5 linked regions of the Homo sapiens genome follow. The protein of the gene in region 4 purifies or fractionates together with the protein of the main gene of each other region. This does not show direct contact. Each region holds a gene or a part of one and is shown on either strand. Other genes may lie near its edges. The genes, in order: APOBEC3F, PUM2, ELAVL2, RTP3 and DIS3L2.

Region 1 (2,826 bases), on a different chromosome or scaffold from region 4:
GTAATATTCTCCCCCACACTTAAGAATGTACTTTGTATGCCTTTAAGAATGTACACTTATAGGTTTGGGATAGGTTTATCCCAAACCTGTAAGAACTAATGATAATCCCACCACCCTTTGCTGACTCCTTTTTCTGGTTCAGCCCACCTGCACCCAGGTGAAATAAACAGCCTTGTTGCTCACACAAAACCTGTTGGTGGTCTCTTCACATGGACACGTGTGACACTGACCTCAAGTGATCTGCCTGCCTTAGCCTCCCAAAGTGCTAGGATTACAGGCGTGAGCCACCACGCCCGACCAAGATGATTAATTTAAATGAGACCTCTAGTGTGGGCACAAATTAATTTGTCTGGGGTCCATAAAGGAGAAGGTCGACCAGGTGCCATGGCTCATGCCTTTAATCCCAGCACTTTAGGAGGCAGAGGTGGGCGTCAGGAATTCGAGACCAGCCTCGCCTGGAATGTACATGGTGATGTAGCAGGAACGGTTGCAGACAAAACCTCTCAGACACCAGTTTTAGGAAGGAAGAGGCTTTAATCAGCTGGGAGCGTTGACAGACTTGCATCTGAAGATTGGAGCTCCCTGAAGAAGTCCCTGGCCCTTTTAAGGGCTTACAATTCTAAGGGGTCCACGTGAAAGGGTCGTGATAGATTGTGCAAGCGTGGGCTACGTGACTGGGGGGCTACATGCATCAGTGGTGGGGGCTAGCAGAACAGACCAGAAAGTTTCACAATGCTTCCTCATACAATGTCTGGAATCTTTAGATAAAACAAGCGGTCAGGTCAGGAGTTGATCTTTAACTACCAGGCCCAGGTAGCAGCGCCAAACAGTCTGGCCATTGATCTTACTTCTGCATCTTTCTAACTTTTTGCTTCCTTCTGAAATAGGAGACAATGAGAGAGGTGGTCTCCTTCCTCAGTGAAACCCCATCTCTACTAAAAAATAGAAAAATTAGCAGAGATTGGTTCTGGGCATCTGTAATCCCAGCTACTCAGGAGGCTGAGGTGGGAGAATTGCTTGAACCCAGCAGGCAGAGGTTGCAGTGAGCAGTGATTCTGCTATTTAGCACTCCAGCCTGGGCAACAGAGTGAAACTCCATCTCAAAAAAAAAAAAAAGTTGTGTATGGTGGCTTATATCTGTAATCCCAGCACTTTGGGAGGCTGAGGAGAGTGGATCGCCTGAGCTCATGAGTTCAAGACCAGCCTGAGCAACATGGAGAAACCCCGTCTCTACTAAAACTACAAAATTAGCCAGGCGTGGTGGCACACGCCTGTAGTCCCAGCTACTCAGGAGGCTGAGGCACGAGAATCGCTTGAACTCGGAAGGCAGAGGTTGCAGTGAGCTGAGATTGTGCCATTGCACTCCAGCCTAGAAAACAAGAGCAAAACTGTCTGAAAAAAAAAAAAAAGATATTTGGAAGCAGAGAGACCCCAGAGGTACAGTACAGGTTCATAGAGGAAAGGCCACAGAGGACACAGCCAGAAGGGATCCCTGCCATCCAGGAGGAGCGGCCTCAGAGCAAACAACCCCGCCGACCCCTCCACCTTGGACTTGTAGCCTCCATATCTGTGAGAAAATAAATGCCTGCCTGTGGCCCGCATTATTCATGTGGGCACCTGGCCCAGGGCATCTTCTGTGGAGGCCACAGCATGAAGGGATCATTTTTATAGAGAATCTCATTCTCTAATAACTTATATCTGCCTAGAAAATGTCAAGTCAAATTTAAAGTGTGGAGAAGGGCCTCTAAATTTCACATTTCATTTGCAAAGAAAGAATTGTAATTTGGGACATACACGCAGTCCGGGTGGTGTTCACCATGTTGGGAGAACAGAGACAGCAACAGGTCCTATTAAAAGGAGAAATGGGCTAGGCGCTGTGGCTCACACCAGCAATCCCAGCAATTTGGGAGGCCAAGGAGGTTGGATCACTTGAGGTCAGGAGTTTAAGACCAGCCTAAGCCTGGCCAGGTGGCTCACGCCTGTAATCCCAGCACTTTGGGAGGCCGAGACGGGTGGATCACGAGGTCAGGAGTTCAAGACCAGCCTGGTCAAGATGTTGAAACCCCGTCTCTACTAAAAACACAAAAATTAGCTAGGCGTGGTGGCACGCGCATGTAATCCCAGCTACTTGGGAGGCTTAGGTAGGAAAATAGCTTGAACTCAGGCGGCAGAGGCTGCAGTGAACCCAGATTGCACCACTGCACCCCAGCCTGGGCAACAGAGCAAGACTCCATCTCAAAAAATAAAATAAAAATAAGACCAGCCTGGGAAACATGATGAAACCCGTTTTTATGAAAAATACAAAAATTAGCCTGGTTTGGTGGTGGACGCCTGTAATCCCAGCTACTCGGGAGGCTGAGACAGGAGAATCACTTGAACAAGGGAGGCAGAGGTTGCAGTGAGCCGAGACCGCACCATTGCACTCCAGCCTGGGTGACAGGGCGAGACTCCATTTCAAAGAAAAAAAAAAAGAAAAGGAGAAATGTTCTCTTGTCCTATGGGAAAGCCCATGGGCACTAGGAAGGGTTGGGAACTGGGAGGTTCCATTGCTGAATAGCTGCGATTATAGCAAGGAGTCCAAGACTTACAGCCATTTATTGCAGAAGCTATGGATAAAGCTGGTTTCAGGGTACAATGCACAGTTTCAGGAGTCAGGCTTGCAGAGAAGTCCATTTTGGGAGCAATGGTGTGTGGCCTGACTGCTTTTCCTCCCTGGCTCCTGGGCTCTGTTTTAGCTGCGTAGGACATGAATGACCCAATTTGTAGGATGAAAGTTAACAAAGGATGTTTCTCAAAACTTCTGGTTTTCAACTTACATACCCATTT
Region 2 (3,521 bases), on a different chromosome or scaffold from region 4:
TGAGTAGCTGGGACCACAGGCATGTATCGTCATACCCAGCTAATTTTTAAATTTTTTGTAGAGATGGGGGTCTATGTTGTCCAGACTGGTCTTGAACTCCTGGGCTCAAGTGGTCTCCCACCACAGCCTCCCAAGTAGCTGGGACTAAAGGGTTGCACCATGATGCTTGTCTAATTGTTTTTCTTTTTTTTTTTTTGTAGAGGGAGGGTCTTGCCACATTGCTCAGGCTGGTCTCAAACTCCTGGGCTCAAGTGATCTTGTCACCTCAGCCTCCCAATCTGCTGGAATTATGGGCAAAAGCCCCCATGCCTGGCCATGATAACCTTAAGCATAAAAATGGAAACCATACCAATATATCTGCCAAAGGATATCCATCGATTTTAATTTTTCCTCCAGTTATAACATACGGGAGGAAATGAAAGCCCAAGGAGGTTAAATGTGTAGCCTAAACACAAAGACAAACAGTTATCTGAGTGTTACATGCTGTATTACCTTGTGCATGATTATCTTTCTCTGAGCAGGTTCAGCCATATCAATCATCTTTTGAACCACGTAATTGGCATACTGGTCCTTCATCATGGTGTATAAGGCACTGTGAGGACCATCATTCTGGCAGCAAACCTCGTCAATCAGTAAAGCTCTCTCAGCACGGGAGGCATGAGTAACACACTTTTCTACTACATTGCTAAAAATTAAAGCAGATAAACAAAGATTTGTTATTTTTTTCTTCACAGCAAAATTTCCTTGACTTATAGAAAGAATCTTCTCCAATGAACAATAAAACAGAAGTCAGGATGGGATTCTCTTGTCTTATGATTACTTTTATTTTATTTTGTTCTTTTTTTTTTTGAGACAGGGTCTTGTTCTGTCACCCGGGCTGGAGTGCAGTGATGCTATCACCGCTCACTGCAGCCTTGACCTCCCTTGCTGAAGTGATTCTCCCACCTCAGCCTCCCCCATAGCTGAGACTACAGGCATGCGCCACCACGCCTGGATAATTTTTTGTAGAGAAAGGATCTCCCTCTATGTTGTCCAGGCTGATCTCGAATTCCTGGGCTCGACTGATCCTCCTGCCTTGATCTCCCAAAGTGCTGGCTGGGATTACACGTGTGAGACACTGTACCCAGCCAATTACTTTTATAACAGAAATTGGTATCTTGGAACAACCTACATCATTTTGACATCCACAAGTTTAATTACAGGTCTCTTAAAATTGTACTTCAAAAAAAAGGAAACCAGATCATTAAAGCTGTGAGGTTTTCAAGAAACATGTACTAAATAAATCTGCATTTCCAGTGTCGGGAGTAATTATTTTCCAAATACAGATTTCATAAATGAACATATGTGGGCAAAACAAATTTGTTATGTAGATTTTTTTAAAAAACAAAAGCAATGTTCTATAGGTGCATTTTAATGATACCAAAAAAAAAAGACTACAGTTTAATGCTACATGCTACACGTATTTCTGTGATAACTAATAAAAGTCAATGAGTTGAAAGAATTGACCCTTAAAATTACAAAGTATTACAATACCTGGCAAATTTGTGTTGACTCAGGGCTAAAACCTTTCCCCTGATTTCGGAAACAATTTTGCTCTTGTCTTCAGGTCGACCGTGTTCCAGTACATGCTGAATAACATAATTGCCATACTGATCCTAAGACAGATATTTAAAAATTACTTTCCCTAAGTCATTCCTTAAGAATGATATTCTTTAAAGACATGTTAATCATTTCATCTAAAAATCCAGTAGGATAGTTAGGAGAATACAACAGCCTTTTGTCTCACTCTTGTCTATAGTGTGTTTAGTAACAAATTGTATTTCTTTTAAAAATTAAAACAATTTCCAAAAATATATAAACATTTCAAATTATTAGGGAATTTATACCTGTACCAACTGCTCTGTATGTTGGTGGAGTTCTTCTAAGATAGGTAAGGTCTGTTCTGCAGTGCAATGCTCTAGGATGCGCTGAATTACTCTGCAGCCATAAGGATGAGTTGAAAGCACAAATACCTGAGGACAATTAGAAGAATTAAAATTTGTATTCTCTGACATTTTTGAACAGTTCTATGAAGCAGACTGGTTTGTTTTTTTTTTTTTTGACAACACCTAAAAGCAGTTTGAAATAGAAGGGTGATGAACTCACATTTAATATGACTACCACCATGTTAGAAAAGACTGGAGAGTGGGGACAGGGAGCACTCCATTTAGGAGCTGAAGATATTTTGATCAAAAGGAACCTAACCAGAACTTTACCTGAACCTGAGGTTATGTAACAATGGGAATGAATGGGTGAAAAGAGAAAGGGTAGTTCAGCATTAAGAAATATTAATTACTATGTATTAGTTACAAATTGCTATGTGTTTTCTGTCTTATTATACAGTCTTATGTCTTTCTCCAAACCTCCTTCCCTTCTCTGAGTAAACCTGAAAACATCGTTGGGTATAAATAAAAAACAATTCTAACAGTGATTACCTTTACTTCTTAAAGTAATGTGATTAAACTATTTGTTTTGCAGCTTCAGAAAAATGAAGCTATCTACTGACTATGAAAGAGGAAGAAATTAATGTACATTTACTGTTTTGTATCCTATTTTTGTATACAATTGCTGGGTATTATCTAGTGACTCATGAAAAACGTGTTGATATTCAAAATTCTAAAATAATGCCCTGCTAACAAATTATAAGCCAAAACTCAAACATACTTGTCCCTTGAAAGCATCAATGATGAACTGTAGTGACTGTGGCTGAACACATTCGATACATTTTTGTACAACATGGTTTCCATTCTGATCTTTCACACATTTGAGCACATGACCATCCAGCTCCTTTACCATTTCACTCTGCAAAAGACAGGATGTCATTTAAATTATTACCTCAAACGAGAAAATACTAGTATATTTTATCTCAGTATTAAAAATTAAAAATATTAAAAATCTCAGTATATTTATCTCAGTATTAAAAATACTGAGATGGGAACACAAATATATTCACAAATATTATTTCCTGTTTGTCAAGGGTTTAAATTTTTTTCTCTTGTAGTATAATTAGCAGAAACCATTGAAAAGTGAAAATTACTAAAACACACTGCAGGATTATAATGTAAATGATGTATGTTGAAACAACGTAGTGATGCTGAACTTGCTGTATTTAAACTGTCTTCACTGTGTAAATCATCCGCTAATATTTATCGGGCGGTAACTAACATGACTAATTCAGAATTACACACTTCCGCCTTACTTAGTACCACCTCCACCACCAAAGGAATTATTTTTAATGGCTGAGTGAGTTTATCAAGTACATAGAAAAGGCTAAGAAGTTGATGACTACTTATGGGCTATGATTTTTACATATTATCTCAATAATTCCCTAAGGGAAGAATTAATGTCAGGTATCTTTGTTCTTTTATAAAATGCTCTTATAATAAAGTGCTTATAGCCAGATGCGATGGCTCACACCTGTAATCCCAGCACTTTGGGAGCCTGAGGCTGGTGGATCACCTGAGCTCAGGAGTTTTGAGACC
Region 3 (3,521 bases), on a different chromosome or scaffold from region 4:
GAATCTCAAAACAACTATCATTCCCTAGTCCCATAAAGAGATGAAATTAGTCAAGAAAGTGTGTACTAAAAGCTTTCAGTAAAAAAAAAAAAAAAAAAAAAAAAAAAAAGGGGATAAAAATCCATCTTGAAGGAATAGTTTATTGCTTTGATATTTATAAAAGATTTTTGTGATATCCTATTAACATAGTCTTTAAAGTTGCTGAAATAATCTCCAATAATGAACAACCCACAAAAACAAAATGCTGGAAGAAAAGAACATTTAGAATATAAATTTCCCTTTCATGATAAACTTTTTAAGTCAAAGGAAAAACCCAAGGATTAAATCTATCACTACAGATGGTCCCCAATTTATGATGGTTCAAACTTACGATTTTTCAACTGTATGGTGATATAAAAGTAACACACGTTTAGGAGAAACTATATTTTGAATTTTGATCCTTTCCCGGGCTAGCAGTCTATGGTAAGAGACTCTCTCGATATAGGGCAATGGTAGCAAGCCACAGCTCCCACTCAGGCAATGGATCATGAGAGTGAAAAATGGATACTCTGTGTTGCCAGATGATTTTGCCCAACTATAACATAAATGTTCTGAGCATGTTTAAGGTAGGCTAGACTAAGCTCTGATATTCAGTAGGTTAGGCGTATTAAATACATTTTTAACTTAATGCCATTTTCAACTTGCAATGGGTTTATCAGGAGCATCTGTATTAGATTGGCCAACGGAAAAATATACAGGTACATCAAACTGTAGATAACATACCTGGTTCAAAATATACCAGTGCTAAAGCAAAACCTTCACTGTGTCTTAAAAAAAAAAACCTATCATTTTACTGTTACTGTCTTACAGTAAGTATAATTTTAAATTTGTCAAGTTTTTTAAAATACATTTTTAAAAGTGGGAAAGGGGATTTTGCATGTCAGACCTTATCTCCTATTCATTTTCAGTCAGAAACTGATGTAATAGATATCAGTAATATAAATATATACTAAGAAACTGCAAGTTTATTTAAAAAAAAGACACTGTAAGGCATTCTATAAACTGGTTTAGTTTTATCCCCATTCCACCTATTCTTATGACTTTCTGGGTTATTTTACCTATTTTACTCCTCAAAGCCCCCATCCTTCTCTTCATAAAGATTTCTTACAACGAAAACCTGTATCTGTTGTCACACAGAACTATTCAGCAATATTCAAAAAGGTACCATGTCATTAAGCATATCAATTCAGTTCACGCATTGAGAGCCTAACTCAAAGCTCTGAGAAAAGAATGCTCGTTGCAAAAATAGTTATTTTTATTAAGACCAATCTCTAGAAACTTAACATTGATATTAAAGATGAAGATGTCTATGAGAATGCATTTAGCACAGCGTTGCTCACACAAGAGTTACCTTTTGTTTTGTTTTGCACAATGGAATACAAGCTTAGAGATAAAAAAAATTCTTCCCTTGAAATAAAAAATTCTTCTAGCCTTACTAAAATGAAACATATGATACACATCACACAAGCTGAAAGCCAAATCTGTTAAATTTACTAGTGAAAAATGTCCTAAGTACCCCACAAAAATCTAAGATTTTATTACGCAAACTTTGACTTTTAATTCAGACTCCAAAAGTTATCATTTAAATCATAATAAAACACTTATCTTTTAATATGTAAAAGCCTTAAAATAAGCACTGCCTTTCAAGCTTAAGTGTCTTCTGTTTCCACTTGGCAAATTTACGTTATGTGAAATCCTTAAATAATTAACTAGCACTATAAACCGTCTAGTATCTCGAACCAAATAAATATACAATAAATGTTCTTCCCAAATTAGAACATACAAAAGTGTGGATTTGGCACTGAACTACAATATGTGGGCTCTGTGCGTAACCAGAACCGGTGAAGACTTCTACACCTGTAAAATGAAAATGGCCAAAGCAAGAAAAAATTTTATGCATTTTATGTCCTCCATAGTGAATTTGATAGTCAGGTGTGGCATCACTAGACATAAAGCCTTCAAACAGTTCTATAATATATCAACAAAGCAGCAATACTGACAGCTAAATACTAACAAGTGGGAAGGCAACTAACCAGGAAAAGCTACGTAATCTGTGGGTCCCAGTGCAAGATGAAAATGCAGGGTAACCTTGTCCAAAAATTCTTAAGAATTTCAAGATTGGGTAGGATGTGCAACCATACCGGTTACAAGCTGGAAAAGCAGTCCTGCCCATAACTAAGTACTCACGCCAAAAATAAAATTAACCTCCCCCCACACACACTCAAATGTGGTAGCTTACTATCATTTTTGACCTGTCCAGCTGAGTAGCCAAGAAACAAAGAGCTGGGGGTAGACTGAGATGGGCAGGTTTTCCACAGGGTGGCACACCATCTAGCCCCCTTAAAATGTCAACAAAAAAGTAACCAAACCAAGCTAAGTACCACAGATTCTAGCCTCTCTCAATTCCAAATAAACATTATGAGTGATAAAAGTGGCAATAAGAATGTGACGATGTGATAGATTTAATAAGACATCAAATGGGAGCGAAAATACTGATGCTACCATGCAGACAAGTCATCAAAAAGGGGAATGGTAAAGTCAGTCTTGATAAGAAGCTTAAGAAGCTATTTCAGAGTATCTAGTCCTTTGGGGAAAAAGAACATGAAGGCTAATTTGCCACTGTGGTGCTCTTGTGCAATGCCAATAATGCCTGAAAAGCGTCACAGGTTTTTTAAAAAAATGTCTTTCAGCAAAGAAAGAGGAAAAGGTTGATCCCAGCTTAAAAGTCAGGATATTCTGGAAGGCTTTGCTGTGTCCTTAAAGAGAACCTAAGACTTGCTTCTAGAATAGAAGTGGGGTGGCAGGAGGGGAGGCACATTATTTTTAAAAGATAAGCAGGGAAGGCTGGAAGAGCCAAGAGCGGTTGGTTACAAGGATTCAGCTAGCAGCATCTGTCTGTGTATAAATAATCAAAAGGTTGATTCAAGGAATGATGGTATATGACACTCACAGCATCATTCTCCCTTAACCTACCAGGAGCTGAGTCTTAACTAAAACCACTGAAACTGGGACAGAAAGGCTTTGTTTTTCTCTTGTGAAGAGGCGGTAACCAGAACAAATCAACCAAAAAAACTAAATCAGAGAGGATCTATAAAAACACATCTTAGGCCTAGAAAAGAAAAAAGGTTCCATAGTAACCTTTTGACACTGAGTGTCAAAAGAGTGGTAGACACTGACCAGCAGTGGGTACTTGCTCTAAACAAGAAGCATATCCTATAACTAAAATTATCTTGAACCACAGGGAAAGTGTGTGAGCACTGAATATAGCTGACTTGATTGTTCCTGAAAGAAGACACTACACAATGAAGGAAACACCTACAGATAAGGAAGAGGGAGGGGCTTAACACCTAAAGTTGTCTTTCAAAGGAAGAAAAAAACAACTAACTCCCTGAAAGGTGGCAGCACAAAGTTACCCAAATAACAGGCAACAAGGGGCTGGTTTTAACCACACAAAAATAAAAATACTCTCTCAAAAAGGAAAA
Region 4 (4,050 bases):
CTCTCCTGAGGCCCAGGGCTTAACTACCTCCTCCACCTTGTAAATGGAGTGTACTCTTGGGGTCTGAGATGGGGGGAGGCTTGTAACCTGTATGGGCCCAGCACAGAAGCCCTGCAGACATGCCTCACAGTTGTCACTATTGTGTGGCCCTTCAAGAGAGATGTCCTTGATCATAGGAACCTCCTCTATCAACTGAAATCTTCCTCTATAGCATTTCTTCAGAATTCGGAACACCAGGTTTTTCAGGATCCTTGAGATGTTCTCTTGTGTGAACTCAGGGTCCTCAAACAGAGGTTGGGGGCACTTCTTACATCTCTGGGTAAACACCCTCATCTTCACCTGGCCCCTGGACTTCTCCTCACTCCAGTTCATGTGGAAAAGGACCAGAACTTGGGCAGAGGCCCAGTTACGAGAGCAGGAGGAGCACTGGAACCTGTGGAGACAGAAGAGAGTCTCAGCCTGGCTCCATGTGACCAAATCACGGGGAACTGCCAGAGAGAGAAAGGAGCTACCGACTGCACAGAGACATGACTTGACTGGGGCTGTGGCTCAGTGGTGGAAGAAATTGCTAAGACCTCTTTCCCATCTCCATTGTGCCACTGACACACTGCATGCTGCACAGTGTCTGCTATGAAAACAGTGAATTGCAAGCTGTTAGATCTGGGAGGGACCTTGGGCATCTTCTAAGTCCAACACGTCCATTTTAGAGATGAGGCACACTCTGGAAACTCCTCATGTCCAGAGACCCAGTGGGTGTAAAAAGGCATGACTGGGACTGTGGTCTCCCTATTCCAAAGCAAAGCTTCTTCAAATGTAGATTCAAATGGGTCAGAGGCCACAACTGCAACAGCAGCCAGTTCAGTTCAGGACCCTGAAATCCACAAATGCCTATAGGTGGGTGTTGATTAAGTTATAGACTCATGGGTTGGCGGTGGGAGCCTGAAGTGTCCAGGGTTCTCCTAGAGGAAAGCCTTTGCCTTTCTCTTGGCTGCCGAGGGTCCCTGGTCTGCGGTATTGCAGGGAGATCACAGTGTCCAGCTCTCTCTTCATTTGTTTCCCCTCCAACCCAGTTCCCTTGCTCAAGGTAGCCTGGAAAACTTCATATTCTGAATGCCACTGGCTTCAGACAGGATACAAGATAATACACCTTGTCTCAGCAGGGAGGAGGGCAGTTTTTGAGCTAAGGTATCTGGACAAATACATGTCAGGAGGTAGAGAGAGAAGAAGGCAGGAAGCACATGGCTGCACCTGGGAAAGGAATTATGGGAGAGGCAGAGAGCTGCACTGTGGCGGAGACATTTAATGCTCACCAAATTATCCATGCACTCCCTCCCACTTCCCAGCCCCTTTGCCGTGAGGCTGGGGCCATGGGACCAGTTGGGCAATGAGATGAGGCCAGCAGTGATATATGTTCCTTCCAGATATGGTCACAGAAGCCTTGGTAAGACATTCCAGCTCTCTCCTCCTCTGCTTCGGTGACCTTGGGAGCCACGTGTAAGGTTAAATCAGTGATATTTCCAGGTTTATTTGTCACTGTGGCTGAGCCCCCGATGCCTGGATACAGAGAAATTAGGCTGCAGGTGGTGAATTGGAGGGGGCTGGGAAGAGGGAGTTAGTCCAGGGTGTGCTCCTGTATCTTGACTCTAGCCGCAACCCACAGGGTGAATGCAAGGTTGAAATGAGAGGGAGAGGCCAAGAAGCTGTGATCACTGTGAGAGGACCTTGCTGGGAGTCACCCAGAGTCAGCAGTGCAGAGGGGCCTGGGCCCTGTTCTGAGCAGAAGTCCACTGCCATCCCCTGGGTCTCAGTGCTCTGTTCCTGTGCTTGTTCAGAGTTCAAACTTCCCATGGATAAATGGACTGAGACTTTGGTGCAATGCTCCCTATGGCAGCTCCTGGCCTGGGATAGCCATAGGCCAGTGGGAGAGCTCTGCCCCCTCTATGTAGACTCTCCCTGGGAGGGGACAGCGGGTGGGACCCGGCCTCCACCCTCTGTGCACTGTGGGCAATCAGCCCCAAGCCTTGGGGCTCCCCATTTCCACCTGGGAAAGAGAGGATGAGGCTTAGGATGATTTCTAAGACTCCTATTTTAAAAAGATTCTATCAGCTCAGAGTAGAGAGGGGCAGGATTGCTGCCTGTTGCCCAGGCCCCCTGCTCCTCCGGCCTCCCCCGAGGGTGTCTGCTCAGTGCCGTGAGTCTCTCCTCCTAGGGGCTCCAAGGTGGGTCCAGCAGTCTCCCTAGGCATGGGGCACATGCACCGCCCGTGGGTGCAACAGCTGCCCTTCCTCCCCTCCCCTTTCCTGGCTGCTCCCTCTCCCCACCCCCACAGACTGATTTCTCTGTATCCAGGCATTAGCTCACAAGGGTGCTCAGGCCTGCTCTTGCTTTGGGGTTCATTGTAATAGTGAAAAAACGATCTTTAATGAAGTTACAACTTCTTGGATGATGGGCATCTTATTACCCATAGTCTTCAATTTGAAAGCACAGAATAGAACAAGAAAAGTAACAGGTATACCTAGTAAGAAATGTGCAAGAATTTTCTGGAACGTGTACCATCACATTCCCCCTCACCTGGCGAAGGTCCACTGCTGGTATTGCATCCAGCCTGGCTTCAGGACGTTGGGAAGAAGGCCCTTGTCTGGTCTCAGGGTCCACCTGTGCCATGGCTTCACCTCCCGCATTAACTCCTGAAACATTTGCTTCCACACTTCTGTGTCCCCAGCCATCTCTGGGGCTATGGTGTGCCTGGGTGGGTCGAGCTCTCCTGGGCCCTGGCAGGTCTGTAGTGGGAGATGAGGTTTCTGACTTCAGAGGGCAAGGACTCAGACCTGCCCTCCCTTTGAGGACCTGGATTGGGCCCATGAACCATGTCTCTGCCCCAAGGACAAAGGTCAGTTGGCTCCAAGTTCAGAGGATGGCACTAGGCTCCACAAGGAATTTCAAAAGACACAGAACTTGTGATTTTATTCATCAAAATGTTGCCAAAGAAGAGCTCTAAACTCCAAATCAGGAGGAGTGAATTTCAGTCTGGCTCCGCTGTCTACCTGCCTGTGACCTGGAACACATCTTTTCACTTCCAGCACCACTGTAAACGGTGGAGACAGGCTACAGGTGTTCTTTCCAGTTCTAACATTGGAAAATCCTTCTCCATCAGGCTGCTGTGCTCATGCTGGGGAGGAGAGGCACAGGGAAGAAGGATGAAGTGGTCCTGGGACCTCAGCGGGATTCGGATTCCCATGTCCTTGCTCCATGCTCTTTACGTTCCGGCAGACAGCCAAGGCTGCCCACCCATGAGAAACCAAAGCTGATGCAATCACTGTTTGCCCAGGCGACAGGTACAAGGGCACAGGTCGGTGAGAGGCCATTAGCCCTAGGCAAACCCAGAGTCACTGCCCTCCTTCCTGAGGGGGTTCTCCATCCTCTGCTTCCTGCAAGAGAGGATTGAGGAGGAAGAGGGGAGATTAGGGAGTGGGTACTGGAGTGGGCAACACTCCAGGAAGGTGCACAAGACTCTGGGTGTCCGCATCCCAAGACCCGTCCACAAACTGCATGTGTCTTCCTCGGGGCCAGGCACTGACCTATGTCCCTGGCCACCTCCCAAGAGGAGGAGAGGAAGGAAGGGAGCAGAGCAGGAAGGAAAAAGGAAAGGAGGCTGGGGATGCAGGGGGATGAGGAGGTCTTCCAGGGCAGTTGGAAACAAAGCCACCTCCTTCCTCCTCTCCAGCCCAGCTGCCTGCAGCTCTTGCCCTTGGGTTTAGCTCCTCGGCAGGCTCAAGTCCTGGGTCTCCCCTCTTTCCAAGCCAGTTTTGTTTCTCAGCATTAGAGCTGTCCCTCAGTTCCAGGTGGATTGGTTCCAGCGCCCCCTGCAGATAGCAAAATCCTCAGATGCTCAGGTCCCTTATACAAAATGACATAGTATTTGCATATAATCTATGCACATCCTTCTGTATACTTTAATTGATCTCTAGATTACTTATAATACCTAATACAATGTAAATGCTATGTAAATAGTTGTTACACTTTATTGATTTTAAACTGCTAACTAAAAAT
Region 5 (3,521 bases), on a different chromosome or scaffold from region 4:
TCTTGAACTCCTGACTGCAAGTGATCTGCCTGCATTGTCCTTCCAAAGTGCTGGGATTACAGGTGTGAGCCACCACGCCAGGCCCATAATGTCTTTCCAGGAGACTACCTTTTACCTGCTAGACCAACTGCAGCATGACAGTTGCTTTCTTGCCCAGAACTTCTCTCTCTGAGATAAAGTATGTATGGGGATGATACAGGAAAAACCATTAAACCCGAGATTGTATATAGCCACCATGCTTTAGACATAGGGTATACACCTGTGCCTTCTGCCTGTGCTTAGGCTGCTCTGACAGTACCCAAGGTTGTATTAGTTCTTTGAGGATGGTCAGGGGCAGATGTTCCTAAATATTTCTGAATTTGCCAGGCATATTTAAGGAAATTGAATGAATTTGTTGATTTGAGTGATATCGGATTCTTTTTCTGCTGTAACTTGTCAGTAAATTTTCTTATTTTTGGATGATCTTCTTTGGGTCAGTTATGAAAACAAGGCTTATGTGGTAAAGCAGAAGTGCAGATGGGGGAGCTGGTTTTTTAATTGTACAGGCTGTGTATTCCTTATCCAGAATAAGGAATTCTTATCCAAAATAAGGTCCTTTTTGGGACCAGAAGTGTTTTTTTTGGGTTTGGGATGTTTTTCGGATTTTGGAATATTTACATTATACCAGTTGAGCATCCTAAATCCTAAAATCTGAAATCTGAAATGCTTCACTGAGCATATCTTTTGATTGTCATGTTGATGCTCAAAAAGTTTCAGATTTCAGACCATTTTGGATTTTCAGATTAGGGATGTTCAACCTGTGTATCAGTGCCCTAGCTGTAGCTTCACTCACATGAGCTCTTGCAGGAAGGGCCCTGCGGGAATCTTTTTGGAGATTGCTGGCCTGGCCAGTAGAACTTTTTTGTAGTATTAAAGAGAGGGAGATATGTCTGTTTCTAACTTCCCATTGACAGATGAATGGACAAATGAATGTATGAATCTGACATGAGTCAAAACAAGCAAAAAAGAAAATTTTATTAAATATACTCAGGGACTGGGAACCAAGTTTTTAAAAAAGTTTGCTCAAAAGTTTTGAGCACAGTTTTGCTCAAAAAAAAAAAAGCATTGTTTACAAGTTTTTCTATTACTATATTTTTATGGAGTCAATTTTTACAAACTGAGGATATATTCTTACCTTTATTCTGATCGTTCTTTGTAATATTTTACTTTGGTTTTCTGAGTTGATATTATAATATTAATTGTCTAGGAATGGTTATGTTAATTGAACCTACTGTATTAAAATGCTTTAGGAAAGATTTAATAACTTTTTCTCTCTTGTATAAGGTGAAGATCTTTCACTAAGCATGATCTTTGTGTTACTTTTAATTAGAACATTAGACCTATCAAATATAAACATGGTGAAACTGCTAGAGCTCTCTTACTTCATTCAGGTCTCTGCTCAAATGCTGCTTCCTCTAAGCAGTATTTCCTAATCACCCTACTGATAAACTAGGCACACCCTCTCCATTATTCTCTCATTTACTTAACGAGCTTTCTCATTCTTTCAATATATTTAATTGCGCTTCTCACTAGTCGACTTTTGATTGTGTTCACTGTTCTGCCCTTGGCACCTAGAACAGTTTCTGGCACCATGAAAGGGACTCCATAATGACTTGTTGAATGAGTAAATTGTTCATCATTTGTCACCCCACTAGGATGTAGGACTCATGACGGTGCCTGGCACGAGGTGGGCATTCCAACATTTGTTTGAAAGAATAAAAGGAATGTTTACAAGTAGTGATCAAATTCATTTTTTATATTTATGTATATACAGGTGATCATTTAAGTTTTAATTATATGTTTAAATTGAACATAGGTATTTATCATATAGAAATAGATTATTAAAAAGGATGCAGTATTCAAGTAACATCCAAGAACCTACAAAATCTGCTGCTTTTTTGCTAATGTGGATGGGCAGATTTACATGTAGGGTCACAATTTTTTTCAGTGACTCAATAACACCTGGTGTATTTTAATATAGTGTCCATAGACATCAGAGTGCTGTATGTGACAAACTCATAAAATGGATTAGTATCTGGATTGGTTTTTTATTTTATTTTATTTTATTTTTTTTAGAGCTAGAATATCCCTTTGTCGCCCAGGCTGGAGTGCTGTGGCGTGATCATAGCTTACTGTAACTCCTAACTCCTAGGCTCAAGTAATCTTCCCACTTCAGCCTCCCAAGTAGCTAGGACTACAGGCGCCCTGCCCCCCAACTATGCCTGGTTGATTTTTAAATTTTTTTTAGAGGCAAGGTCTCAATATGTTGCCCAGGCCGGTCTTAAACTCCTCCTGCCTTGGCCTCCCATAGCTCTGAGATTACAGGTGTGAGTCACTGTGCCTGGCCTGGATTTTTTTCCTCTACTTGCTTCATTAGTATTGTAGTGTAAATGTCCATCAGTGTGTGTGTGCTTTATACGTATATACGTATATATACACACGTATAGACGTGTATACGTATATATACACACGTATAGACGTGTATACGTATATATACACACGTATAGACGTGTATACGTGTATATACATATACGTATATATGTATACATATATACATATGTATATGTATATGCATATGCATATGTATATATACATATATGTATATATATGTGTATATGTATATGTATATGTATATGTATATGTATATGTGTATATATACATATACATGCAGAGAAAGACCTTTCACTGTGAGAAAGTTCAGCCTGCAGATTGTATAACAAAGTCAGAATTCTGGTACCTGTGATATTTTCTCCATGGTTGATGGGAACCAAATCCTTTGTGGAACCATTAGTGGCAGAAATAAATACATAATAGAAACTAAAGGCCTGAGCCTTTAAATATATATATATATATGTGTGTGTGTGTATATATATATATATACACATATATATATATGTATATATATATATATGTGTGTGTGTGTGTGTGTATATATATATTTTTTGAGACAGAGTCTCGCTCTGTCACCCAGACTGGATGGAGTGCAGTGGTGCCATCTCGGCTCGCTGCAAGCTCCGCCTCCTGGGTTCACACCATTCTCCTGCCTCAGCCTCCCAAGTAGCTGGGACTACAGGCACCCGCCACAACTCCTGGCTAATTTTTTTATATTTTTAGTAGAGACAGAGTTTCACCGTGTTAGCCAGGATGGTCTCAATCTCCTGACCTCATGATCCGCCCGCCTCAGCCTCCCAAAAGTGCTGGGATTACAGGCTTGAGCCACCGCGCCTGGCCAATAAAGCTTTATATTTTTATAAGAACATTTTATAAACTCTTGTTCACACTTAATTTTGTTTTTTTTCCACTTCATCTTGTATTCTTGTGGTTTCCTTGGTTTCCTTTAGGAACACTGTGGCATACTTTGTTGAGTTCTTTTATCATTCCCTAACTTACTAATTGTTCCTATATGGTGAGGGTTTATGAAGCAGCATGGTACTACTTCTGGTATTCAGGGCCTTTGGGGAGAGGGGATGAAAATGTAGATC

Evidence for each region.
Region 1: the proteins of RTP3 (region 4) and APOBEC3F purify together in Homo sapiens (affinity purification with mass spectrometry; one large-scale study listed by BioGRID and IntAct). This does not show direct contact.
Region 2: the proteins of RTP3 (region 4) and PUM2 purify together in Homo sapiens (affinity purification with mass spectrometry; one large-scale study listed by BioGRID and IntAct). This does not show direct contact.
Region 3: the proteins of RTP3 (region 4) and ELAVL2 purify together in Homo sapiens (affinity purification with mass spectrometry; one large-scale study listed by BioGRID and IntAct). This does not show direct contact.
Region 5: the proteins of RTP3 (region 4) and DIS3L2 purify together in Homo sapiens (affinity purification with mass spectrometry; one large-scale study listed by BioGRID and IntAct). This does not show direct contact.

The regions. Positions count from the first base shown.
Region 1 is NC_000022.11:39,053,661-39,056,486, reverse strand, and holds the end of APOBEC3F (DNA dC->dU-editing enzyme APOBEC-3F), read right to left. Parts: 3' UTR 515-2,826; downstream 1-514.
Region 2 is NC_000002.12:20,253,330-20,256,850, forward strand, and holds part of PUM2 (pumilio homolog 2), read right to left. Parts: intron 2,842-3,521; coding exon 2,704-2,841; intron 2,013-2,703; coding exon 1,887-2,012; intron 1,656-1,886; coding exon 1,534-1,655; intron 686-1,533; coding exon 493-685; intron 1-492. UniProt on the Homo sapiens protein: Sequence-specific RNA-binding protein that acts as a post-transcriptional repressor by binding the 3'-UTR of mRNA targets.
Region 3 is NC_000009.12:23,816,238-23,819,758, forward strand, and holds part of ELAVL2 (ELAV-like protein 2), read right to left. Parts: intron 1-3,521.
Region 4 is NC_000003.12:46,496,739-46,500,788, reverse strand, and holds the start of RTP3 (receptor-transporting protein 3), read right to left. Parts: upstream 2,814-4,050; 5' UTR 2,727-2,813; coding exon 2,572-2,726; intron 434-2,571; coding exon 1-433.
Region 5 is NC_000002.12:232,083,711-232,087,231, forward strand, and holds part of DIS3L2 (DIS3-like exonuclease 2), read left to right. Parts: intron 1-3,521.